Homo sapiens: one gene and its partners. The protein of the gene in region 6 purifies or fractionates together with the protein of the main gene of each other region. This does not show direct contact. Each region holds a gene or a part of one and is shown on either strand. Other genes may lie near its edges. The genes, in order: SF3B3, ZC3H18, DDX17, HNRNPR, HNRNPM, FUS and HNRNPH1.

What was found.
Region 1: the proteins of FUS (region 6) and SF3B3 purify together in Homo sapiens (affinity purification with mass spectrometry; 3 studies listed by BioGRID and IntAct, with this or other methods). This does not show direct contact.
Region 2: the proteins of FUS (region 6) and ZC3H18 purify together in Homo sapiens (affinity purification with mass spectrometry; 3 studies listed by BioGRID and IntAct, with this or other methods). This does not show direct contact.
Region 3: the proteins of FUS (region 6) and DDX17 purify together in Homo sapiens (affinity purification with mass spectrometry; 5 studies listed by BioGRID and IntAct, with this or other methods). This does not show direct contact.
Region 4: the proteins of FUS (region 6) and HNRNPR purify together in Homo sapiens (affinity purification with mass spectrometry; 4 studies listed by BioGRID and IntAct, with this or other methods). This does not show direct contact.
Region 5: the proteins of FUS (region 6) and HNRNPM purify together in Homo sapiens (affinity purification with mass spectrometry; 4 studies listed by BioGRID and IntAct, with this or other methods). This does not show direct contact.
Region 7: the proteins of FUS (region 6) and HNRNPH1 purify together in Homo sapiens (affinity purification with mass spectrometry; 4 studies listed by BioGRID and IntAct, with this or other methods). This does not show direct contact.

What each region holds. Positions count from the first base shown.
Region 1 is NC_000016.10:70,558,316-70,561,815, reverse strand, and holds part of SF3B3 (splicing factor 3B subunit 3), read right to left. Parts: intron 1,348-3,500; coding exon 1,225-1,347; intron 187-1,224; coding exon 32-186; intron 1-31. UniProt on the Homo sapiens protein: Component of the 17S U2 SnRNP complex of the spliceosome, a large ribonucleoprotein complex that removes introns from transcribed pre-mRNAs.
Region 2 is NC_000016.10:88,573,403-88,576,902, reverse strand, and holds part of ZC3H18 (zinc finger CCCH domain-containing protein 18), read right to left. Parts: intron 1-3,500.
Region 3 is NC_000022.11:38,489,312-38,492,811, forward strand, and holds part of DDX17 (probable ATP-dependent RNA helicase DDX17 isoform 1 precursor), read right to left. Parts: intron 2,805-3,500; coding exon 2,745-2,804; intron 1-2,744. UniProt on the Homo sapiens protein: As an RNA helicase, unwinds RNA and alters RNA structures through ATP binding and hydrolysis.
Region 4 is NC_000001.11:23,320,285-23,323,784, reverse strand, and holds part of HNRNPR (heterogeneous nuclear ribonucleoprotein R), read left to right. Parts: intron 1-52; coding exon 53-229; intron 230-2,121; coding exon 2,122-2,257; intron 2,258-3,500. UniProt on the Homo sapiens protein: Component of ribonucleosomes, which are complexes of at least 20 other different heterogeneous nuclear ribonucleoproteins (hnRNP). hnRNP play an important role in processing of precursor mRNA in the nucleus.
Region 5 is NC_000019.10:8,451,475-8,454,974, reverse strand, and holds part of HNRNPM (heterogeneous nuclear ribonucleoprotein M), read right to left. Parts: intron 1-3,500. UniProt on the Homo sapiens protein: Pre-mRNA binding protein in vivo, binds avidly to poly(G) and poly(U) RNA homopolymers in vitro. Involved in splicing.
Region 6 is NC_000016.10:31,183,139-31,186,638, reverse strand, and holds part of FUS (RNA-binding protein FUS), read right to left. Parts: intron 2,782-3,500; coding exon 2,637-2,781; intron 2,431-2,636; coding exon 2,243-2,430; intron 1,701-2,242; coding exon 1,460-1,700; intron 1-1,459. UniProt on the Homo sapiens protein: DNA/RNA-binding protein that plays a role in various cellular processes such as transcription regulation, RNA splicing, RNA transport, DNA repair and damage response. Binds to ssRNA containing the consensus sequence 5'-AGGUAA-3'.
Region 7 is NC_000005.10:179,617,175-179,620,671, forward strand, and holds part of HNRNPH1 (heterogeneous nuclear ribonucleoprotein H), read right to left. Parts: intron 2,234-3,497; coding exon 2,095-2,233; intron 1,150-2,094; coding exon 971-1,149; intron 887-970; coding exon 815-886; intron 759-814; coding exon 625-758; intron 476-624; coding exon 340-475; intron 1-339. UniProt on the Homo sapiens protein: This protein is a component of the heterogeneous nuclear ribonucleoprotein (hnRNP) complexes which provide the substrate for the processing events that pre-mRNAs undergo before becoming functional, translatable mRNAs in the cytoplasm.

The DNA of each region.
Region 1 (3,500 bases), about 39 Mb from region 6:
CTGCTGAGCTTCAAACATGAGACTCACTCACCGTAGGGTGTTGGTGGAGATGGCCACAATGCCCTCGGGACACTGTTCCGAGGCAAAACCCGATGCAAATTCCAGTGTCTCGTAAGACAGTGGGGTGAGATGGAAGCGAGATTGGTAAGAATAGCTCAACCATGAGCGGCTTGACATGGCCAATACCTGAGGGGAAAAAAAAAACCCAGCTCCAATAAGGTTTGGGAAAAAATACAAATATGGTATAAGCTGACCAAAAGCCCTATCCCCAAATTTCAGTCTGCAGAGTATCCTAAGATATTCTAGAAATATAACAGGCTATCTTAAGAAAAAGAGGGCTAGAGAGAGGCACTATGGCTTAGCATATGTGAAAAGCATGGGCTACGAGCCATATGATCTAGACTCACCATTTCATCTCTCTAAGCCTGCTTCCACGTGTGTAAAATGAAAACAGTACCACAAGGCTGGACAGCTGCAAGAATTAAATGGAATGAAGGCCAGGTGCGGTGGCTCATGCCTGTAATCCCAGCACTTTGGGAGGCCACGGCAGGCGGATCACCTGAAGTCAGGAGTTCGAGGCCAACCTGGCCAACATAGTGAAACCTCATCTCTACTAAAAATACAAAAATTAGCTGGGCGTGGTGGCATGCGCCTGTAATCCCAGCTAATCGGGAGGCTGAGGAAAGACAATTGGTTGAACCCAGGAGGCGGAGGTTGCAGTGAGCCAAGCTTGCACCACTACATTCCAGCCTGGGCGACAGAGTGAGACTCCATCTCAAAAAAAAAAACAACAAAAAACAGAATTAAATGGAATCAATTAGCACAGTGCCCAGAAACACTAACATTCTTAACTACAAAGGACACAATGTTTCCCAGTCTCTTTCACATTAGGTAGTAAACGTGACACTGATCTAAGACTGGGATAAAACCTGAGAATTCTCATGGCTAGTGGTGTCCTAGAGGGGAGGTTTCCAGCCCTATTTGACCAGCCAGAGGGCTAAAGGGATCGATATCTCTACCCAGCTATAACCAAATCATGACATGGTGCGATGGAGCCCCAGTGAGGAAGCTCTAGGTTAGGAAAACTCAGGACTTCTCACATGAAGGAAACCAATCAAGATGGAGTGGCAAATTAGTGACAGTGAAGCTTACAGCAAAGATTGTTCTCAGATGGTGCCACTAAAATCCCAAAGATGTTGCCTGTCCCCAACCTTCATTACTTACTGCCTCCTGGCCTTGCATTCGGACTCGGAAGAGCTTCACAGGACGGGACCCCAGGTACCGAGTGCGAGTATCAGACAAATCCCCAGTGACAGGGTCCAAGACAGTCCTCAGCAGCACACCGTTCTAATCAAAAGGAGAGGAGCAGGTGAAGCCTGATGGAAGCTTATCAGCTATGATGGGAAAACCTCTCCCTTGGGTACTTCACATAAGAAATTAGAGCAGATAGAAAGAAATGACTTGGGTGTTTAAAAAAGATCCTAATAATCCGATAGCCATTCATTTCATTCTCTCAGTAAATCACTTAATCATCCAAAGTTATGGAGCATCTACTAAGTAAATACACACTTATTTTTCACTATATCTTCTTAATATTTCTTTTTACCAAGTATATTAAATCCTTCTTCACTACTGTATATTTCAAATAAATAATTAAATAACCACAAAGACCATGGTCCCTAAACAGCATTTCCTCTTAAAGGAACAAGGTTCCTAAAAGGAATGACTAGTTTGGGGCAGGGGCAAGAATGTTCCAGACACATGTGGGGATACTTTATTGTGCAACAAGGCAAGGAAACCCCTACAAATAGTGGGGTCATGTTAAAAGGACAAAAGAACTAACTTCAAATAGAAATTCCCACTTTTCTAGAATGAGTCAATTTACCACCCCCCCGCACCCCTCAAAAAAAAAGAAGCCAGGTGAGGTGGCTCACATCTGTAATCACAGCACTGTGGAAGCCAAGGAAGGACGACTGCTTGAGGCCAAGAGCTAAAGACCAACCTGGCCAACATAGCGAGACTCTGTCTCTGTTTAAAAAAAAAAAAAGGAGTTTTCAGCACAAATGTATAAAAATCCACAAGTTTATGATGTTACTCTATTTTTTTAAATTTTTATTTATTTATTTATTGAGACAGGTTCTCACTCTGTCACCCAGGCTGGAGTACAGTGCCACAATCTTGGCTCACTGCAGCCTCCACCTCCCAGGCTCAAGCAATCCTCCCACTTCAGCTTCCCAAGTAGCTGGGACTACAGGCATGAGCCACCATTCCCAACTATTTTTTGTATTTTTGGTGGAAATGAGGTTTCGCCATGTTGCCCAGGCTAGTCTCGAACTCCTGAGCTCAAGCAATCCACCCACCTCAGCCTCGCAAAGCGCTGGGATTACAGGTGTGAGCCACAGCACCTGACCAATGTTACTCTAAAAAACAGCAAAAAACCCACTTTACTGGGCCCCACTGAAAGGAGTGCTGTGGCCCTCACTCCTTACTCTGAAAACAGGTGAACAATGGGAAAAAAATTATTTATCCTTTTCCTGTATGAACCGTACTTATAGTAAGCAAAGAAATGATGCGAATTTTGTCTTTAGAATTCCAACTAATTAAATCCAAAAAGAAATAAATCATTTTCCAACCACTAATGAAAGAATGAACCTAGGCAATGTGTGTAATAGCTGTAAGTAAAGGGTTGACGGGAACTTTAACACAGATACAGACAAACATCCCAACATCACTGTGAGTGGGACAACCAGACACTACACTCCTCCTGACGTGATGCAACAGGAGTAAACAGCACCACCTATTAAGTATTCCTGTCCCCCTCCCCCAATAATTAAATCTGAATCTAACCAACTTCTTCTTCTGCAATATCCGATACTATAGCTACCCCAAGCCACATGTGGCTAGTCAGAACTGAGACAGGACCAGGCATGGTGTCTCACACCTGTAATCCCAGCCCTTTGGGAGGCCAAGGCGGGTGGATCGCTTGAGCTCAGGAGTTCAAGACCAGCCTGAGCAACATGGCAAAACCCCATCTCTACTAGAAACAAGAAAAATTAGCCGGGCGTAGTGGTGCACACCATAAACCCAGCTACTCAGGAGGCTGAGGCATGAGAATCGCTTGAACCCAGGAGGCAGAGGCTGCAGTGAGCTGAGATCACACCACTGCACTCCAGCCTGGGCAACAGAGCAAGACTCTGTGTCAAGGAAGAAATTTTTTTTAAATAAAGACAAATAAAATTTTAAAGAGAACTAAGACTGCTAAGTGTAAAGTGCCAATACCAGATTTCAGACTTGGTTTAAAAAAGAGAGAAAAAAAGGTGAAATAGCTCAGCAATTTTTATATTAACTACATGTTAGAATGATTTCAGATATACAGAGTTAATAAAACATTAAAACTGGCCAGGCACGGTGGTTCATGCCTGCATTCCCACCAGCACTTTTGGAGGCCAATGTAGGAGGACCACTTGAGGCCAGGAGTTCAAGACCAGTCTGAGCAACAC
Region 2 (3,500 bases), about 57 Mb from region 6:
GCCTCCCGTTTTTGGCAATCTGGCAAAATGAGATGTGGCAGAAGGAGACGCAGCCTGGCCTAGCCCTTCCCCGCTCAAGGGCAGCCCACACGAGTTAACAGAAAGTGAGTAACGATACGGATCGCAAAGGACAGCTGTGTGAATTCTTAGAGGAGTATTTACTTTTGAAATTAAAGATAAACTGTATCATGGAACGAGGAAGCAAAACTGCAGGCCCAGATCTCACCATTTTTCTGGAGTCATCCTGAAGCAGGAACCTGGGCCAGCCTTCGGCAGTGTCCAAGTCTGGAGCCTTTTCTGTTACTGAACACACTTCTCGAAGGCCAGCCTCTGAGGGCCTCCGAGAATCCCTTGGCTGCCCTTTAGCAATGCAGGCTCAGAGCCCTGCCTGCGTGTTCACTGGCCCCTCCAGCAGGTGTCGAGAGGGCTGTGTTCACCCGCTCAGCAACTCACACTCCTAAGTTGAGAACCCCTCTTCCCATACAGGTAGCTGCTGTCGAAAAGAACTCTGGCAGGAAACTTGACACACTTAAGTACCGCGCGTATGTAAAAGACGAGGCTGGCCAGGTACGGTGGCTCGCATCTACAATCTCAGCACTTTGGGAGGTTGCAACGGGAGGATCATTTGAGCCCAGCAGTTCGAGACCAGCCTGGGCAACATGGTGAGACCCTGTCTCTGTAAAAAAAAAATACTAAAATTCAGGCCAGGCGCGGTGGCTCACACCTGTAATCCCAGCACTTTGGGAGGCCCGAGGCAGGTGGATCATGAGGTCAGGAGATCGAGACCATCCTGGCTAACACGGTGAAACCCCGTCTCTATGAAAAATACAAAAACTTAGCTGCACGTGGTGGCAGGCGCCTGTAGTCCCAGCTATTCAGGAGGCTGAGGCAGGAGAAAGGCGTGAACCCAGGAGGTAGAGCTTGCAGTGAGCTGAGATCGCGCCACCGCACTCCAGCCTGGGCGACAGAGTGAGACTCCGTCTCAAAACAAAAACAAAAACAAACAAACAAACAAAAACTAAGTCACAGAGTGTGGTGGTGCGTGCCTATATTCCCAGCTACTTGGGAGTCTGACGCAGGAGGATCGCTTAAGCCCAGGAGGTGGAGGCTGCAGTAAGCCAAGACTGCATCAATGTGCTTCAGCCTGGGCAACAGAGTGAGACCAATCTCCAAAAAAAACTCAAAAAACAAAAAAAGACGGGGTCACTTCAGACTTCATTCCTATTTTTACTAATCCAGATTAAATTATAAAGTTAATATTTTCGAGTTTCCCTCCTCAAAAACTCATAGAAAGTACACTGCTACCCATGCTTTAAAAGTGGACGGTGTTAAGACGGGTAGGAAGGTGTAGAACGGCAACACCTGCCTGGCAAACACTTGCCACACCACCACTACCAGGGCAGCTAGTCACCACCAAGTGAGTGTGGAGCAGCAGGGACAGTGCCAGGTCAGCGGTCACTTGACTGTTCAGTCTGTGAGGCTGTTAAAATAACGTATGTCACGGTCACACTGCTCGGCATCTCGGCAAGGTCTGGAAACAGATTATTCATCTCAAGATAACTACGGACGCAGCAAGTCATACACATACACATTTATATGTCTTGTATCTCAAATAACCATACACACTAAAGATAAAAATATTCATCTTTTAAATTTATACTTTTAATACAACCTGTTTAAAGATGCACAGTATCAAGAATTGGTATCAACCTACAGTTAAACATTTTTTTTTTTTGCTGTTAATGGAAATCATTAAGATTAAGTACACATTAGAGGCCGGGCACGGTGGCTCACGCCTGTAATCCCAGCACTTTGGGAGGCCGAGGCGGGTGGATCACGAGGTCAGGAGATCGAGACCATCCTGGCTAACACGGTGAAACCCCGTCTCTACTAAATATACAAAAAATTAGTCGGGTGTGGTGGCGGGTGCCTGTGTTCCCAGCTACTCGGGAGGCTGAGGCAGGAGAATGGCGTGAACCCAGGGGGCGGGGCTTGGAGTGAGCCGAGATCGCGCCATTGCACTCCAGCCTGGGCGACAGAGCGAGACTCCGTCTCAAAAAAAAAAAAAAAAGATACATTAGAACAAATTGGTCAGGTGCGGTGGTTCATGCCTGTAATCCCAGCACTTTGGGAGGCTGAGGTGGGCGGATCACTTGAGTCCAGGAGTTCTAGACCAGCTTGGGCAACATAGCAAAACCCCATCTCTACCAAAAAAAAAAAAAAAAAAAAAAAAAATTAGCTGGGTGTGGTAGGGCACCTGTCGTCCCAGCTACTTGGGAGGCTGAGATAGGAGGATCACCTGATCCTAGGAGGTTGAGGCTGCAGTTCAGCCTGGGTGACAGAGTGAGACCCTGACTCAAACAAAAAACAAAAAAGCCAAAAAAACCCAAATCTGGCCAGGCGTGGTGGCTCGCGTCTGTAATCCTAGCACTTTGGGAGGCCAAGGCAGGTGGATCATCCGAAGTCAGGAGTTCAAGACCAGCCTGGCCAACATGGTGAAACCCGGTCTCTACTAAAATACAAAAATTAGCTGGGCATGATAGCAGGTGCCTGTTATCCAAGCTACTTGGGAGGCTGAGACGAGAGAATCGCTTGAACCTGGGAGACAGTGGTTGCAGTGAGCCGAGATCACACCACTGCACTCCAGCCTAGGTGGTGGCTAAGCGAGACTCCGTCTCAAAAGAAAATTCAAATCATTTAAAATTCATCACTTTATAAAAACTAAATGGGCCAAGGGTGGTGGCTCACGCCTGTAATCCCAGCACTTTGGAAGACTGACGCGGGTGGATCACCTGAGGTCAGGAGTTCAGGACAAGCCCGGTCAAAATGGTGAAACCTTGTCTCTACTAAATATACAAAACATTAGCTGGGCATGGTGGTGGGCATCTGTAATCCCAGCTGCTCGGGAGGCTGAGGCAGGAGAATTGCTTGAACTCGGGGGGGCGGAGGTTGCAGTGAGCCAAGATTGTGTCATTGCTCTCCAGCATGGGCAAAAAGAGCAAAACTCCGTCTCAAAAAAAAAAACCTAAATGGTTAGCAATAACATAGATTTACAAACCAACCAATCCATTCCAAGTCACTTAAAAGCAGACAGTTCTGAAAATGATTCACTTTTTGGTTTTCTAAGTACACTATTCGGTTACTATCCAGAGACAGGACTACTGGGAGGAATTATTAAAAAGTCAGTCCTAAGCCAGGAGTGGTGGCATGTACCTGGAATCCCGGCTACTTGTGTGGTTGAGGTGGGAGAATCACTCGAGCCCAAGAGTTCGAGTCCAGCCTAGATAACATGGTAAGACCCTCGTCTTTTTATTAAAGGTAGTCCTAAACTGGTATACACTGCTGAAAATGGGAAAGTCAAGGAGCTGATCCCCAAACAGTATCACAGGGGCGCTTGATGCACAGAGCATTTCTGCAGCCCAAGGCAACAAAAGCAAGGATGAAAAGCACCAAGGCTGCTAAGGCCTCTACGCACTGACTGTTCAAGACTGGGAGTCTGC
Region 3 (3,500 bases), on a different chromosome or scaffold from region 6:
AACTCCGCCTTCTGACACGGGACCACTGGAGCGCGGGGAGCATGCATCAAGGGTCCGTGGCAGTGAGAAGTCCCCACACACGCTCGCTCTGTGAACTGGCTTAGATGCTTCTCTGTAGCCCCATTTGGTTGCCAAGCGCCGGAGAACCTGGGTTCGGGTAAAAATTTCAGGTCCTCCAACGCCTCCCCCAAGGATAATTGGGGTGATTGTAGAAAAAAATAATTAATAAAAAAAAATGTAAGTTACATCCAAAGGGTCAGACTGCATCTATTGCCCAGACTGGATTAATTTCAAGGGAGAAAGGGGAGATTAAAAAAAAAAAATTAGCTGTTGTTACAGGGCTTGTGAAGAAGGGGCATTATGTCTGTTTCTTATTACAATAAAGGCTCCTCGGTCTTTACTGACCCCTAAAGTCCTGAATCACACCAGAAAGACGAGAAGGCACTTATCACAGGGGGCAGCTTGAGTCTCCGGCTAGGGTCGTTGACGCAACAAAGGAAAAAAGAATTTACAGGGCCAGGGTGGATGTAAGACAGGGGGTGGGGAATTCTACTCCATGGTATCTTCAGAGCTAGGATAATGCTCCTTATGCAATCCCACTGCATATGACCATGGCAGTAGAACAAGTTCAATTACTACACTGGATGCGTTAAGTGTGCTTTCCTAGCAGAAAGCACCAGGGTGGAGTCAACAGTTCACATGCTAATACTTGGAAGTATTTCTAGAAGGGGGTGCTCAATAGAGGGCAGACATGATGCAAGTTCTTCATACTAGAAAGGTGTCCTGTGTGTGCATGCACAGCTGGATGGGGGCACACAGGAGCAAGCGCAGAATTTGGTTTTCTCCAGTCAAGTCTACCCTGATGTTATCTGTGCACTGCCACAATATTATCTTGCTGCCTTTCTAGAAGATGCTGTAGCAGGGTAAGAAATCCAAAGTTAATGTTTTGGCCAGCTGACTGGGATAAGAACCTTTTGTCTGAAAGGCCCTATGACATGGCCTGAATCGCCAATCACTAATAAGGAGGGACTAAGTCTAGCCAAGAGGCTCATCTAGAGCTGCTTCCGGCCAATGTAGATTTGTCTCGGCCATGTATTGAGTGATCTGCAGCTGATATCAAAGCTTCTGTTAAAAAACAAAACAAAATAAATTCAATACTTTTAGTTTAACAGTGTGTAGTTCAAACAAAAAAAAGGAAAAATAAAAAATATCCCAGTGGAAAGGGAAGTGGTAGCCTAAGGATGACTATTATAAAATTATGGGAATCAAAGAACTTACCTGAAGGGAACATTTAAGAGACCATCGCTTGACAGGAAGTGAAAAAAGGCCCTGGTGACTCAGCTGAAAATTGCACCCCTGTCTATGAGGTAGAAGCCTTCACTTTCCAGGATCTTGTAGGACATTGGTCAGAATTCTGCCATTTTGGTGGGTTTTCTCCCTCTTTTGATTTTTTACAAGGCAGCAAACAAAGGGGCCCAAAACAAGCACTGATGTTGAGTAACAAGAAACAGACTCGGGTACCTTCCCTCTCCCCTCACTTGGATGAGTGGGGGTGGGATGAAGAGTCTAAGTTATTCTAATGGTAGCCAATTAATTTGGTTTAGAAATGCAAGGGGACATGGAGCAAATATTTTTAATTGTCTAGGCAAGATGCACAAAGAAGCTACCAGCACATAGCAAGCCTGTTTAAAAACCAACCATTACTGAAAGCTTTATGTAAACTGCTTTCAGGCCTCCGCCTCCTCTCCCAACAGGCCCAAGTTCTAATGGCACAGATCCAGACATGACCTCAGAGGGCAGAGGGGCAGAGAGAACTTTCCATCATGGCTGCAGGTCACCACCTCTGAAGGAGGGAATGATGAGTGCAATGCATAAAAAGGCTTCATTACTTTTGTATTCCAGTTTGAATACCTGTTCTCTTTATATTATATAGTATAAGGGAATAATATGGTACTTCTCACCTTACTGGGCAAATTAAATACCTGTCAATAATTTAAGGATTTCCTTGTAATACAAATAATCTTTTTTTTTAAAATATAGAAGTTCTGAGTTAGACCTGTTTAGCTCAGAATAGTGGGCTAAACTACCATAAAATTCTCTGTATATCTTAAATGGTAATGGGTCAAAAACTCCAGAAAATCATCAGTTGATAACACACCTACAGATAAGTGCATGGGTAGGAGGGGATAGCCAAGTGCCCATGATAATTTGACCTCAGTAAATTAAACTGGGCAATACACATATTTGCTATTCTGATACTGCATTAGACTTATAAAATTCCATCTAATAAGCATTCATAAAACTGGACCTCTCTGTATATATCTAGCTTAGACAGGGATAGGGAAAAGAATAACTGAAGAAACTAGCTTACAATAGCTAGGTTTCGTCAGGCTTATTCTATCCAGCCAGAAACCACCACCAGAGAGAAGCTGAGCCATTCAGCTGTCTGTCTCCTCTCCCTCTGTTTGAATAGTCATGCCTAGGCCTTGCTGCAGACCAAAGCCTGTTTGTTAGGAGCAGGAAGAGACTTTGAAAATAAAAGGGGGGTGGGGGAAACCAAAGTTAAAAAAAATTGTGGGGGGGGCAGGGAATGGGGAGAATCACGCTTTGTATTTTTTTCTTTCAAATATTTATCTAACCACATGTATATACAACTTTCTAAACTTGAAGTCTGAATTTGAAATGACGAATCTTTAAACCAAAAGATACATATACCATTGACAGAGACACCTATCTATACAAACCTAGCCCACGGGAGGCTACATCTGTAGCAATAAGGATGGGTGCCTTTCCAGAACGGAACTCTGTAAAAACAAACAATAATCATCATCAAATAAGCATTCCTTGCTATCTGATCTGTTTACATAACCATGTTAAAATTTCAAATAATGGTGCCAGAAAATCCCAAGCTCTTGTAATGACTGACAGTGATTCTTTTGAAAATCTTTATTACACTCATATTCAGCAGCACAATAGTTACCTCTACTAATAATGAAATACCGTTAAGAGAGTGTGGCAATTTGTTACATAATTAATATGAGCTAGATTTTTTTCCCCTTAAAGTTATTTCCCAAATGAGACACAACCAAAAGTTGGGGGTCAGTAGGAAACAAGTTCAAAAGATGTAGAATGAAAAGAACTGAATTTCCCCCCAAAAGGTATGCATATTATTTATTTTTCTTTCTTTTTTTTGAGATGGAGTTTCGCTCTTATTGCCGAGGCTGGAGTGCAGTGGCGCAATCTCAGCTCACCGCAACCTCCACCTCCCGGGTTCAAGCGATTCTCCTGCCTCAGTCTCCCAAATAGCTGGGATTACAGGCATATGCCACCATGCCCGGCTAATTTTGTATTTTTAGTAGAGACGGGGTTTCTCCATGTTGGTCAGGCTGGTCTCGAACTCCCAACCTCAGGTGATCCGCCCACCTCAGCCTCCCAAAGTGCTGGGATTACAGGCGTGAGCCACTGTGTCCGGCCACATTTTATTTCTTAAACAAAATATG
Region 4 (3,500 bases), on a different chromosome or scaffold from region 6:
GCTCTAAAATCAAATGCTTATGTTGGATTCTAATAAGGGGGTTTTATTTCAGGTATTTGTAGGCAAAATACCAAGGGATTTATATGAGGATGAGTTGGTGCCCCTTTTTGAGAAGGCCGGACCCATTTGGGATCTACGTCTTATGATGGATCCACTGTCCGGTCAGAATAGAGGGTATGCATTTATCACCTTCTGTGGAAAGGAAGCTGCACAGGAAGCCGTGAAACTGGTATGTGATAATTATCCACTGTCTTAGCAAGTCACTATTTGAGGAAATAAACTTTAATTCAAAAATGTTTGTAGTTAACATTATTTTGATTTCTTCAGTTGTTGCTTGGAATGTTTTTATACTGACCAAGTTGGTATGTGACGTTTATTTTTCTCTGACTATAAAAGTAAAAAAGAACTGAAAATACCCAAAAAGTAATGTTTTATAGAAAGTCTCCCATTGATTTAAGAAGTTATCTATTAGATTGATATCAGAAGTTTCATATGAGTATTTGGCTTATGCATTTCTGTCTTTTGGTTTTAGGCAAAAGGATGTCAATTCTTGATGTTAAACTTTAGGATTCTTAAAGTATAATGAAGACTGGAATGGGCTGTGGGGAACATAATAGTGGATGACAGTGACTTAGGATTCAATTCAGAAAATAGTTGTGAATCTGTTTTATTTTGGTTACAGCCTACTCATACGATTTATTTCATATTTTCTAAGTGTATTTTTGTTCTTCCTGTATGTTTCTTGGCCCTTGAGTCTTCTCTGTCTTTAATCTTTCTCTCCTCTCCTACTATTTATAGCCAGTCTCATATTAATTTCCTTTCTCTAGGGCCTTTAACCACTTGGTGCTCATTTCAGACCAGTAGTAGTAGCAACAAAGTTCTGCAAATCAAATGTATCTTCACTCCTGCTGTATTTAAGACACAGCTATCTCAGTATCTTAAAATAACAATGTAATTATTTTTTGGCATACCCTTGCCTGACTTCTGAGGACCTCACTAAGTCTAGTTCTAGCCTTTGTAGAATGGTCAACTTCTTTCATCAAGGCTTTGGTTTCATTACTGGTGTCTGAATTAGTTCCACTCCTAGCTTGACCCAGATTTTAGTTTTTATTATGGATTTTTTCTTCAAACTTGTTTATTTAATATTAAGTTTTCATTTTTGGCAGCATATGGATGATTTTATTTTTAATAATCATATCTCTTAGTAAACTAATGGTTAAATAATATTAAAGTATAAGAAGCTAAAATTGGCCAGGTGTGGTGGCTCACGCCTGTAATCCCAGCACTTTGGGAGGCTGAGGCAGGCAGATCACCTGAGGTCAGGAGTTCAAGATCAGCCTGGCCAACGTGGTGAAACCCTGTCTTTACTAAAAATACAAAAATTAGCTGGGCGTGGTGGCGCACGCCTGTAGTCCCAGCTACTTGGGAGGCTGAGGCAGGAGAATCACTTCAACCCAGGAGGTGGAGGTTGCAGTGAGCAAAGATCATGCTACTGCCCTCCAGCTTGGATGACAGAGCGAGACTCCATCTTAAGAAAAAAAAAAAAGGGCTACAATTTATCAAGAAAATCCACTATAGTGATTTAAATAAAACATTTTTCAAAATTTTATAAAATTTTGAAAGTATTGTGTTTGGTAGACAATTTAAAACTATATATTTAGAATTCTGTGACTTCTGTAGAATTTGAAATTTTTCTAATATCTTTGCATTGATTAAACATAGTTGTTACCCTTTACATATTGTTATTTTGAGTATGGCTTACCTATATGCAATTACATTTCCAAGGACCCTGAATGATCAGTCTCAGGTATTTTTTTCTGAAAAATCTGTGGAAAAACATTTTCAGATAGATAAAATTAAAATATGAAATAAGATATTTTAAACAATAAAGTGAGTCCTTTTTATATGGAAGAGTAGTGAAGGTTAACAAAACCAAACTAAAACAAGAGACTGTAACAATGAAGTTTAAAATATACATTCATATTATGGAAAGCATGAGGGAACTTGGTGAGTTGATGAAGCAGGGAGCGTTTGGCCTTAAATTGTTGAATTTTTTAGATTAAGATCAATTGTCCTGAGTTTGGGGTGGTTTTGGGGTCTCTGGTTCTTTTCTTATTGCAGTGTGACAGCTATGAAATTCGCCCTGGTAAACACCTTGGAGTGTGCATTTCTGTGGCAAACAACAGACTTTTTGTTGGATCCATTCCGAAGAATAAGACTAAAGAAAACATTTTGGAAGAATTCAGTAAAGTCACAGGTAAAACAAAAATGTATTTAGAAATTACTTTTGCGAAATATGTTGTACTACTTACAAGTGCTCAAAAAAACTGAGGGGTTGTATGTATTAAATTAAGAATTCAGGTCTGAAGTATCTAAATTGCTTCCTTTCTGCTTTATAGTGGTTTGGGTTTAAGCAAGTTCCCTTATATCCTTCATTTCTTGGAATGTCCCCTTCACTTCTTTGTCTTAATTGAACCTTGGCTTTTGCTGGAGCTTTTGCTCTATAGCCCTCAAGTGAATGCTTTTTTTCCCCTTGACAATTAGTGTATTTTAGGACCAAGAGGATGAAAGTTTTTACTCTCTCCCTGCTGCCTTGTCTAGATCAGATTTTTTTTTTTTTTGAGACGGAGTTTCGCTCTTGTTGCCTAGGCTGGAGTGCAATGGTACGATCTCGGCTCACTGCAACCTCCGCCTCCTTGGTTCAAGCAATTCTCCTGCCTCAGCCTCCCGAGTAGCTGGGACTAGCATGTGCCACCACGCCTGGCTAATTTTGTATTTTTAGTAGAGACGGGGTTTCTCTATGTTGGTCAGGCTAGTCTAGAACTCCCGACCTCTGGTGATCCTCCCGCCTCGGCCTCCCAAAGTGCTGGGATTACAGGCGTGAGCCACAGTGCCTGGCTGATCAGATTTTTTTAAATATCCAATTCTAAATCCATGGAATTGATTGAGAAGTAGATTTTATATCACAGTTCTATACACATTTATATATAACTGAAACAATTTAACAAAACTGTACTTTTATTTATTATACATGATTTATTTTGATATTTCTTATTCTATTTCATTTTTTAAAATGCCAATTGTGATCTAATACTACCTATGATTTAAAAACACTGCGTTAGACCGCTGCCTCCCCTTGTAAAAACCACTGTTTCTTTACATTTTTATCATCCAGACATATCCTTTCCCTTTTGTTGAAGCTGTCATTCGTTGCTCTTGTGGTTTCAGCCTTTCATTAATCTAAAGATTGCTTCTGGCTCACTGTCTTCCTCTTCTGCCCTAAATTGGCTTCTTTCTAATACCTTTAACATCTACATTGGTGAACCATCCAGGGCTTTAGACTCCTACCTACTTCTATGTCTACCTCATCTTTAGTCCTTTACTTCAGCTCCACCATATCCAGATTACATTCTGGATCTAGTCACCAGAAATTCTATGCACTCTGAACTCTTGATTTCTAGCGTCCCACTTTGTAACCACTGCTACCACCCGCTATATTG
Region 5 (3,500 bases), on a different chromosome or scaffold from region 6:
GACTAATGTTGGTTTTGAATTAAGACATTCAAACTCAAGGCTCCACAGGGCAGAAAGCATTCCCAAGGAAAGGTACACCTTCCTGGGCTCACAAAATACTCCTACGGACAGTAACAGAGACAATGGTGAGGCCAACTCCCTGACCAAGGTGTGTTAATTCCAAGACAGAAACAGGAGAAGAGAGGGATGATTTCTAAGACTTCATAGAATGGAAATATGAGGTAGTACACATAGGCCCATCCAATTTTAGCTTCACAAATAAGTGTCTTTCATAGTGTTAAAAAAAAAAAGGGGGGGGGGGCATAAAATGATGCAGCCGCCATGGAAAAGTTAGGTAGTCACTCAAAATTAAACACAGAATTACTATGACCCAGCAATTCCACTGCTAGGTATACACCCAAAAGAATTAAAAGCAGGGACTCATACACATATGCCAATGTTCATAGCAGCACTACTCACACAAGCCAAAAGGTAGAAACAACCAAGTGTCTACCAATAGATGAATGGAATAAACAAAACACGGACTATCCATGCAATGGGATATTATTCAGCCACAAAAAGGAAGGAAATCCTGACAAAGGCTACAACATGCATGAACCTTGAGGGCATTATGCTCAGTGAAATAAGCCAGTCACTGAAGGCCAAATATTGTATGATTCCACTTATTAAATACCTATAATAAGCAAATCCATACACAGAAAGTAGAACAGAGGTTACCTGGGCCTAGGGGGAGGTAGAAATGGGAAGTTATTAAATACTGAGCATAGAATTTCATGTGGGATGAGAATAAAAGTTCCAGGAATGTGCAGATTGCTGCAAAACATCATACTTCACTGCACACTTAAGATGGTTAAAATGGTCTATTTTATGTATATTTTAACCACTTTTTAAAAATCCAGAAAGGTGGAAAAGAAACCACTCCCTACACAATCCTACTACTTTGAAGCTGGGAAACTTGGGTCTGAGCAACCCTGGGAGGTGGAAGACAGCATGCAGACAATCCCACCTTTGGCAAAGAAGGGTGGCTGCTTTTCTGGCACGGCCTTCCCATTGCACTCTTTACCTTTGTGTGCTAGGTGCCACCACACTGTTAACACTAACCATCTCTAGGTAGCAGCCATCAGGCTTGGAAGCCCGGGCACTGGCTGACAGGGCGCTTTCCTCAGCTGCCAGCTCAAGCGCAACCCCTCTGACTACAGGGAGGCACAGATTAGAGCTGATCAGGAACAAGTGAGGAGCCAGAAGCCACCTCAAGTTTCTTAAGCAACTGAGCCTTGCACCTTCTGCTTCCCCAGCCCTGTGTGTCCCGCCAGTGAGAATCCAGTGACTCCCAGACCACGGGCTCTACTACAGAATTTGTAATCCATGACAAAACCGGAAAAAAAACCAAAAAGCCAAGACTACAGTATTAATGATTTATAAAAGTATCTTTAACTGAAGAGCCGATCTTTATTCTGGGATGTAACTTTCTTCCGTGGAAGAAACACCAGATAGTAGCTGGAGAAGCTACTATTTTAAAATGTTATTTAGTTGAGGCCAGGTGTGGTAACTCCCATCTGTAATCCCAGCACTTTGGGAGGCTCAGGCAGGTGTATCACTTGAGGTCAGGAGTTCAAGACCAGCCTGGCCAACATGCTGAAACTCCATCTCTACTAAAAATACAAAAATTAGCTGGGCGTGGTGGCACATGCCTGCAATCCCACCTCTCAGGAGGCTGAGGCAGGAGAATCGCTTGAACCCGGGGGGCGGAGGTTGCAGTGAGCTGAGACCGCACCACTGCACTCCAGCCTGAGTGACATAATGAGACTCTGTCTCCAAACAAACAAACAAAAGTATTCACTTGAGACCAGGTATGGTGGCTCACACCTATAATCCCAGCACTTTGGGAGGTCAAGGCAGGAGAATCTTACTTAAACCCAAGAGTTCGACAAATAAGACCCTGTCTTTATTTTTAAAAATAATAATAATTATCTGAGTGTGGTGTTGTGCACCTGTAGTCCCAGCTACTCAGGAGGCTGAGCTGAGAGGATGGCTCCAGTCCAGGAGGTCAAGATTGCAGTGAACTATGATTGCACCACTGCACTCCAGCCTGGTTGACAAAGCAAGACCCTGTCTCAAAAATAGTAACGTATTTACTTGGAAAAATTTTAAAGTCAGCAACTTTGTGTAGTCCCCAAACACAAGAGTGCCAAGTGGTATCCCAGCAGAGGTATCACTGGTGTGAGCCACACCCAAATCAACACAAGGTAAAACCAAGGAAAGCAGCTTCCTCTGTGATCTCTCAACTATACCAATACACAATCAACAGGCTTCCCTTCCCACGGGCTGGCAGATAAGGTGATGTTATGGCAGCTCCAATCCCTAGATGCCTAGAACGCAATCTACCTGAGTCCACAAGACTGGCTTCACACCACAAAGCAGGTCCCACAGGAGACCTACAACTGTTACCCAGGCCACTTGTCTACTCCAAAAGAAAGTCCTTCACCAAAGTCTGCCAAACAAAATCTATCTGCCAAATCATCTCCTACTCTTTCCTGGAAAATGACGACGACTGTGTTAGAAAAAATCATAAAACATAACAGAATCTACACATCATGGTCCACCAGAGGATTCACAGATGGAAATGAATTTTAATATTGTTACTTTTGAAGTCCCAAATACTTTAAGATTTACAATAAAAAACATTCTGACAGAGTCCATGATGAATTATTTCCAGTCTTTCACCAGACTGCTTAAGCTCACCTATAAACTACGAAATGTATAAATAAATAATTACAGCCAAAGCAGGTAACAAAGTGTCTAACCTATATTCCACAGGTGCATACCATGGCTACGAATAAACTATCCAATCTAACCACAGAAGCTGAGCATTTGGTTTGGGGTTAATCCACATCACATGACTCACCATTGAGAAAGCGGCTCTCACCATGCTTAATGGGCACAGCACCTCTGCAAACAAATCCTTCCCTGGCTAATCATTCCCTCTGAGAGGTTTCCTCAGTAAAGAGATTAGAACTATCTCTTGTCATTTCCAACTTTTAAAAAATTGACCTTTTTGGAAATCTACCACCACCAACTAATTCTTGACAGACTTGTAGAGAATGACCCTCAAAGAAATATCATTCGAGACACATATTCAAGCAGACTGGCCATGGTGGCTCATGCCTGCAGTCCCAGCAGTTTGGGAGGCTGAGGTGAGCTGAGTGCTTGAATCCAGGAGTCTTGAGACCAGCCTGGGTAACATGGCAAAACCGTGTCCCTACAAAAAAAATACAAAAAATTAGCCAGGTATGTTGGTGCACAACTGCGGTCCCAGCTATGCAGAAAGAAGACAGTCTGGCTCCAGGAGGTCAAGGGTACAGTAAGCCATGATTGCACCACTACACTCCAGCCGGGGGTAACAGCGGGAGACCCTGTCTCGGCAAGGGAAGGGGAAGGGGAAGGGGAGGGACATATTCAAGTTTAGATGATGTGATAGTATAAAAGTGATGTCCTGAAAA
Region 6 (3,500 bases):
TTGAGCATGTCACACACACGTGTGCAATTTCTCAGACACAGTTTATAAAGATTTTGCTTTAAAAGGTTACGTTATCTATTTCCTCTGGAAAAAAAATAACCCATTTTCCTTGGTCGTTCTTCCGATGGAGCAGATGTTTTTTTTTCCTCTTGTCGCAAGTGGTTGACAACCAAGTAGTTGGTTTAAAAACCCTACCCCAATTTACCCAGAAGACATTTCACACCAGGCTGGGGTAGCCTTGAACACATTTTTGTGGTTTTTGCTTTGAAAGCAGCAAGCAGACCCAACCCCATTCCATAAAAAGTCAAAACCAAAGGCAACTTCCCCTTAAAGCAAGACAAACTTAGCTAAGCTCTGTCCTAACTACTGAGCTGTTTTTGATCTCCCCCAACCCCCGGGGTCACCCCTTCTACACTGCGAGAAGAGCGGAGTATTTTGCAATGTCACCTTTCATACCTGTGGCACATAAAATGCAGAGCAAGTTAACAGTCACATAACAGTTGTTTTTCTTTTTAAAGTTTTGCATTAAACACACGCACACATTTCCTCATTTTTGTTTTCCTCATTTTTGCACGTTTTTGAGATTGCCCCCACCCACCTCTGCATACTTACCATTTCCAAACTCGGTTTAAAAATCTACTTTTTCCAAAAACAGTAACACTGACATTCCTCCCCTTTTTCAAGGGAGACAGAGTAGGGTCCTTCAAATCTTATTTACCAACAGATTTGACAACTGTTTTAACATCAAATCTAAGGTTTTACTTCAAATCAACTTCAGCAGGAAGGAAAGAAGGTCCAGTTGGACAAGCTGATGAATTTTAAGTAACCAGGGGAAGGCAGACAGTGGAACAAATAGGTGGGAGACCACTGTCAAAGCATATTTTTGCCCAAAAGGTCTGCTTACTTCAGTCAGCTGGCCCCATAAACCAAGTCACACACAAAATCAATGTCGGTCAAATTAGTGCAAATCAAGCTCGTGGATTCAAATGACTATAGAAAACGGGAAGAGTAGCCAATTCCTGGAAGCTGAAGTCAGGTTAACCATTACCAACTCCCTAGAGGACACATGGGAATACACATACCAAGTTTCCCTACTATTTCCCAGGAGTGGGATCATCGGTTTCCCTTGCAGAGAAAGAAGTCTTCACTTCCATGTTTCTTGCCTAGGATATTAATGACTCCAATCCATACGTATCTATGTATGGTTTCTTTTTTTTTGGAAACAAGTATCATTACTCAAAATCTCTATTCAGTGGTATGGATGGGAGTTCAGGCTCCCAAGTTCTCACAAAAATAAAATGGGGATGTAAAAAGAAAGTCACTGCCCCCAAATCAAAGCCCTCACAGATCCCTAGACAACAAGAATACTAAACCATGCACTAGGGACTGGCTTCAGGGAGATTCATGCAATCCTCCACACTCCCCACCAAAGATACTCCCTGGCTCATGAGACACCTACCCCATGCCACCTCTGCCTCCACGGCCACCTCCACGACCTCTGGGTTCATAGCCACCACTGCTGCGGTTGTAACCACCACCGCCGCCGCCGCCGCCGCCACCACTGCCACCCCTGCCGCGGCCTCCACGGTCCTGCTGTCCATAGCCACCGCTGCCACCTCCACCACTCTGGTCTTGATTGCCATAACCGCCACCACTGCCACCACCACTACTCATGGAGGATTGATCTTGGCCATAGTTACCTGTGAGAAAAGAAAGAATGATTAAAAAAAAAAAACAAAAAGATTGTAAAGTAGCACTAAAAGGTTTGAAAAGGTTTGACAAGTGCCAGGCAATGAAGGACAAAAGAAAGTAAAAAGACAGCTAGGAAACAAGACAGGAACCCTCTTTTAAGCTAAAACAGGAGAATACAAATCCTTATAGAAAATGGGCTGCAGACACCAGGCACAGTGGCTCACGCCTGTAATCCCAGCACTTTGGGAGGCCAAGGCGGGCGGATCACAAGGTCAGGAGATCGAAACCATCCTGGCTAACATGGTGAAACCCCGTCTCTACTAAAAATACAAAAAATTAGCCGGGCGTGGTGGCGGATGCCTGTAGTCCCAGCTACTCGGGAGGCTGAGGCAGGAGACTGGCGCGAACCCGGAAGGCGGAGCTTGCAGTGAGCCGAGATTGTGCCACTGCACTCCAGCCTCAGCAACAGAGACAGAGCAAGACTCCGTCTCAAAAAAAAAAAAAAAAAGAAAAAGAAAATGGGCTGCAGACAAAGCTGAAGACATCTCACCTCCACCTCCACCTCCACCTCCACCACCACTGCTGCTGTTGTACTGGTTCTGCTGTCCATAGCCCTGAGGGGGATTATAGCTTTGCTGCTGTCCATAGCTTTGCTGCTGTCCACCATAGCTAGGCTGCTGGCTGTAGCTCCCACTCTGGGGCTGCCCATAGCTGCTGCTCTGAGAACTGCTACCGTAACTAGGGAAAACAAACAAAAAACACAATCACAATCCCAGCATAGCCCCCAATTTCCTTTCACTTTTAGTGGAGTCCATTCTCTGTACCCAACACAGGCTCCCCTACCCCAATTACACCTCTGAACTGCTCCTACTGCTGGTCCCTTTATCATTCCTCATCAATTCACCCCTCTTTTCAAGCCTTCCCCGACATCAACACCACCGTACCTTCCCGAGGTGCTGCTGGGAGCTGGCTGCTGGCCATAGCCAGGGTAGGAGGACTGCTGCCCGTAAGACGATTGGGAGCTCTGGCTACTGCCATAGCCGCCAGTCGAGCCATATCCCTGGGGAGTTGACTGAGTTCCATAGCCTGCTACCAGGATAAGAAAAAGGGAGTCACAAAAGCCACCAGGAAAGAGAAAATGTAAGGAATGGGTTAAAGAAAACATAATACCTATACTCATAAAGCCAGCCTCTCAGAAGCTGTTAGTGATGTTGCAACTCATAGGCAAAGATAGTTACCCTCCTTTCAAAGCCTAAATTTAATGCTTCAACTTCTACCAACTCTTTAGTACAGTTCCAATTTCACCCCGCCAATCCCAACACCATCTCCAGCACCACCCTCTAAACCCAGGCCCAAGGATCCCTGTTAACAGCACTGTAATATGCAGCTGTGCGTGCAGTATCTACAGGACAACCACCTTTCTTAGTTACACTTCAGGACCTTGGGGCAAATCCCACCTCCTTATGTATCACATGATTTCATACATTTTCAAACAAAACCATTTTCTCCATTTCAGAATTGGCCTAAAACTGGTTCTTCCTTTAGAAAATATGCTCTCTTTCATGCTGATGGAAAATAAGAAGAGTCAAAAAAATTAAAAGCCAAAGAAAATAAATGGAAACAGAATCACAAACCAATAAACATTTTTGTTTTTTGTTTTTTTTTTTATGTTTTTGAGATGGGGCCTCAACACACTGCCCAGGCTGGAATGCAGTGGCTGTTCACAGGCACCATCATAGCTCACTGCAGCCCCAAACTCCTGAATTCAAGGGATCCTCCCGCCTCAGCCTCCTCAGTAGCTGGGACTA
Region 7 (3,497 bases), on a different chromosome or scaffold from region 6:
ATAAAGTTTTTAAACAAGCAGATCTGTGAACTTCAAATACTTTGGCAAAGAAATTCTAGCTACTTCTCTTAGGTGATCTACTTTAACTCCAAAATCTAGCCTTTACATATTCATCTGTATTGTCAATTAAGGATATACACTTCAAGATGTGCATATCACAAATCCGTTATACTAATTTTTAAAACCCAAACCTTCAACACACTGCCCCCGCATCCCCCAAGAATTAATCTATTACTGGAGAGGAAACTTCTCATATATCCTTATTTTTCCATTTCTCTATTGTAAATGTTAGTCACACAATCACCTGTTAAGAGCCCACAAATGCTCAATCACACTTACGCATATTTGCTTTGTCTTTTGACATAGCTGCCACAGCATCTTCATGAGTTGCGAACTCGACATCTGCTTCACCAGTTACTCTGCCATCAGGACCAATTTCAATGTGTACTCTCACAGGGTTGAGCGGTGAAAAAAACTACAACACAAGGCATTTCAAAGAATTCAACCAACTTTCTAACGTTACAAAAAAAACCTAAAATTTCTAACATAGTGCTCACATTTATAGAATAAGGCTGACTTACTGCCATACTGAAATATTGACTTGTGAGTTCATCTCACACTTACATTATAAATGTCATTCTCAGTAGCTCTGTAAGGTAATCCCCGCATGTGTACACAGTGTCCTGTTGTGCTCTGGAAAGTAGAGCCACCATCCCCGTATCTGTGATCAGACATTCCTGAAAAACAGTAATTGAGGTCTAGATGGACAAGAGTGTAAGCATCCTTCAACTGAGAAATTCAATTCTTACCTTACCTCTTCCAAATCTATCTGACCCAAATCCATAGCCATCATTATAGCCATTGTAATCATCATAGCCTCCATAGCCTGAAAGACAAAGTACAATCAATCAAATAAAACACCTAGACAAAGGAACAGACGACTTGCCGAACCTTACGAATCCTCACGTACCTCCACCATAAGCACCACGCCTCATCCTCTCAAAGCCAGCTCCTCTGCCAATGCTGTTATACCCTCTACCAGCCCCAGGTCTGTCATAAGGACCTGGCCGCTGCATGGCCATAAGCTTTCGTGGTGGATCATAATGAGTTCTAACTTCAGCTCTACTGCTCTTAAAGATTTCAATATACCTAAAGCATTGTTCATAAGGAAGGGGTAGGGAGGGGAGAGAAAACATTAGTTCATTTTATACAGGTATTTAGTTATACAAGAAAACAATCTAGTCATAGCCATGAAACTGACTAATATTTAAAGCCAGATTTCTTATATTTGCATAGGCAATGACCAGAAATTCACTCAATAAATAGTAAGACAATGTAAACTTTATAGAAAAAAAAAAAAAACTCACTCCTCTGAGGCAGAGCCCAACCTTAGGGGTAGAGAGGAGTACTGTAAATAAATGTTTTAGGAGGGAAATAATTCCACTCAACTTTCAACATTTCAAGTCTTAAATCCATTGGCAGCATGTATAGCAAGTGGGCTAAAAAGCCAGCCTCCACCAACAGTCCAGCCCACACTACACATTTCCTTTCGCCAATAAATACCCCAGCCTATGCTTTTAGTAAGAATCAGCATAGGTAAGCGCATGCTTCAATGAAAAATAGTCACAAGCAAAGAGAATAAAACCTTTTGTGACAATTTCTTGAAAGCTATGCTTATTAATACTATGCAGAATATTTATATACAGCAAGAAAAAGTTTGTTGCATTTCAACTTTAAAAACAAGATCAGAAAGTATCACATTTTCTTATGGTAATATTAATTTATTCTAGGTGGGTGTTATTACAGCTAAAGCCAGGTTTGCATTAATTTTTTAAAGCCATAGTCTCTCAACTCTATTGATTGGGGTTAATAAGACTCACAAAATTGTCAAGCAGACCAATTAACTAGGGACAAATTTCAAACCTAAAATTTAGTTTGCGTGTAACGTGGGACTGACACAAGTTTGGAAATCATGGCAAAACATCAATTACCTAGGACTACAAAACATTAATTTCTTCTTTTAAGCAGAGAGAATATGGATTTAATTGTTTACCATAAGAAAAGTGACATATCCAACCAACCATCCATCCCCACCTGTGCCCTATTCTTTCCTTGTGTTTCTTTAGAGCCTTTTCAGCTATTTCCTGTGAAGCAAACTGCACGAAGGCCTCCCCCGTACTCCTCCCCTGGAAGTCCACCGGCAATGTTATCCCATTTGGCACGATTTCCAACCCTTCAACCCAAGGACAAATAACCCCAGTAGGGGGGCAATATTAACATCACAAGCCCAGAAATGATTCTTCTTATAGCTTTAAATAAACCAGAATTTTTAACTTTAGGTGAATGGTATGCTTTCAACAAGTACTCTTTAAATATGCATTGCAATAATATGAAGTTCCATTATTATAAAGTATAACTATTCTTAACACACCCATGGTACAGTATATATTAAAAAAAACTTGCTGAACACAGGATGCATTAAGAATTCAACAACTTAAGAACACATATCTATGCAACTTAATGTTGAGAATTATACAATTCAATTAAGTTTTAAGCATTAAATAACAGTTTTACTAAATTCAAAACACCTTTTACCTCATTTTATATTTCAATGCTTTAAGTTATTGGAACTTCAAGTTTTTAAAAAGGTATACATTTACAACATTTCATATAAAAACTGAAACATTAAATTATAATTGACAAACACAACAATCTAAACTTTCAACAAAACTGATCTACACAGCACAATCATGCATGCTTATGCTCTAACAGTAGTTATGATTCACTTCTGGAAATTCCGTCTATGAAAAATCCTTTCCGTGGATACATTCCCAAGCTTACAAAAAGGACTTAAAGCACTTTCCTAGAAGATATGAAATTATGTTCATATTTAACGTTGACAGCATTCAATTCTCACCAATTTAGTGTCAAAACAAAACAGACTTGATTTTAAAAATTCTGACATTAGGACTCGATACATATATCAATTTTTAACATACTACACTAAACCATGAAAGGATTTCCTGCTTCCAGCGTATCACATCATAAATATTAATACTTAAAATATACGATATCTTATCTAACATTGTTAAACATGCAATCTTATCAGCTCTTCAGCATAAAAACATTCAAATACTTTAGGCCCAGGAACAATTTCAAAACACTTATTTCAGATACTGAGACTACAAGCATTCAAACTACTCTCACTACATCTGATTTTCAGTAAGTTTATACCACACAGGTTAAACCAAGTCTTTCATAAACCGACTTTTGCATTAAAGAGAATTAGACCATTAGATGCTTCTGGTCACATGACCCAAATACGTGTCTCTTGCAACACAGACACTTGCCATAATTTACAACAACCTAATTCATCGCACTGATGATCTGCTGGTAAAGGGATCTTACCTTTAACTTGAGGTACTTAGCTGGACACCAATGTGAGGAAAGTAGTTAAGCTGTTGAGGGCAATCCTCAATGAAAGATCTACTCTGAAC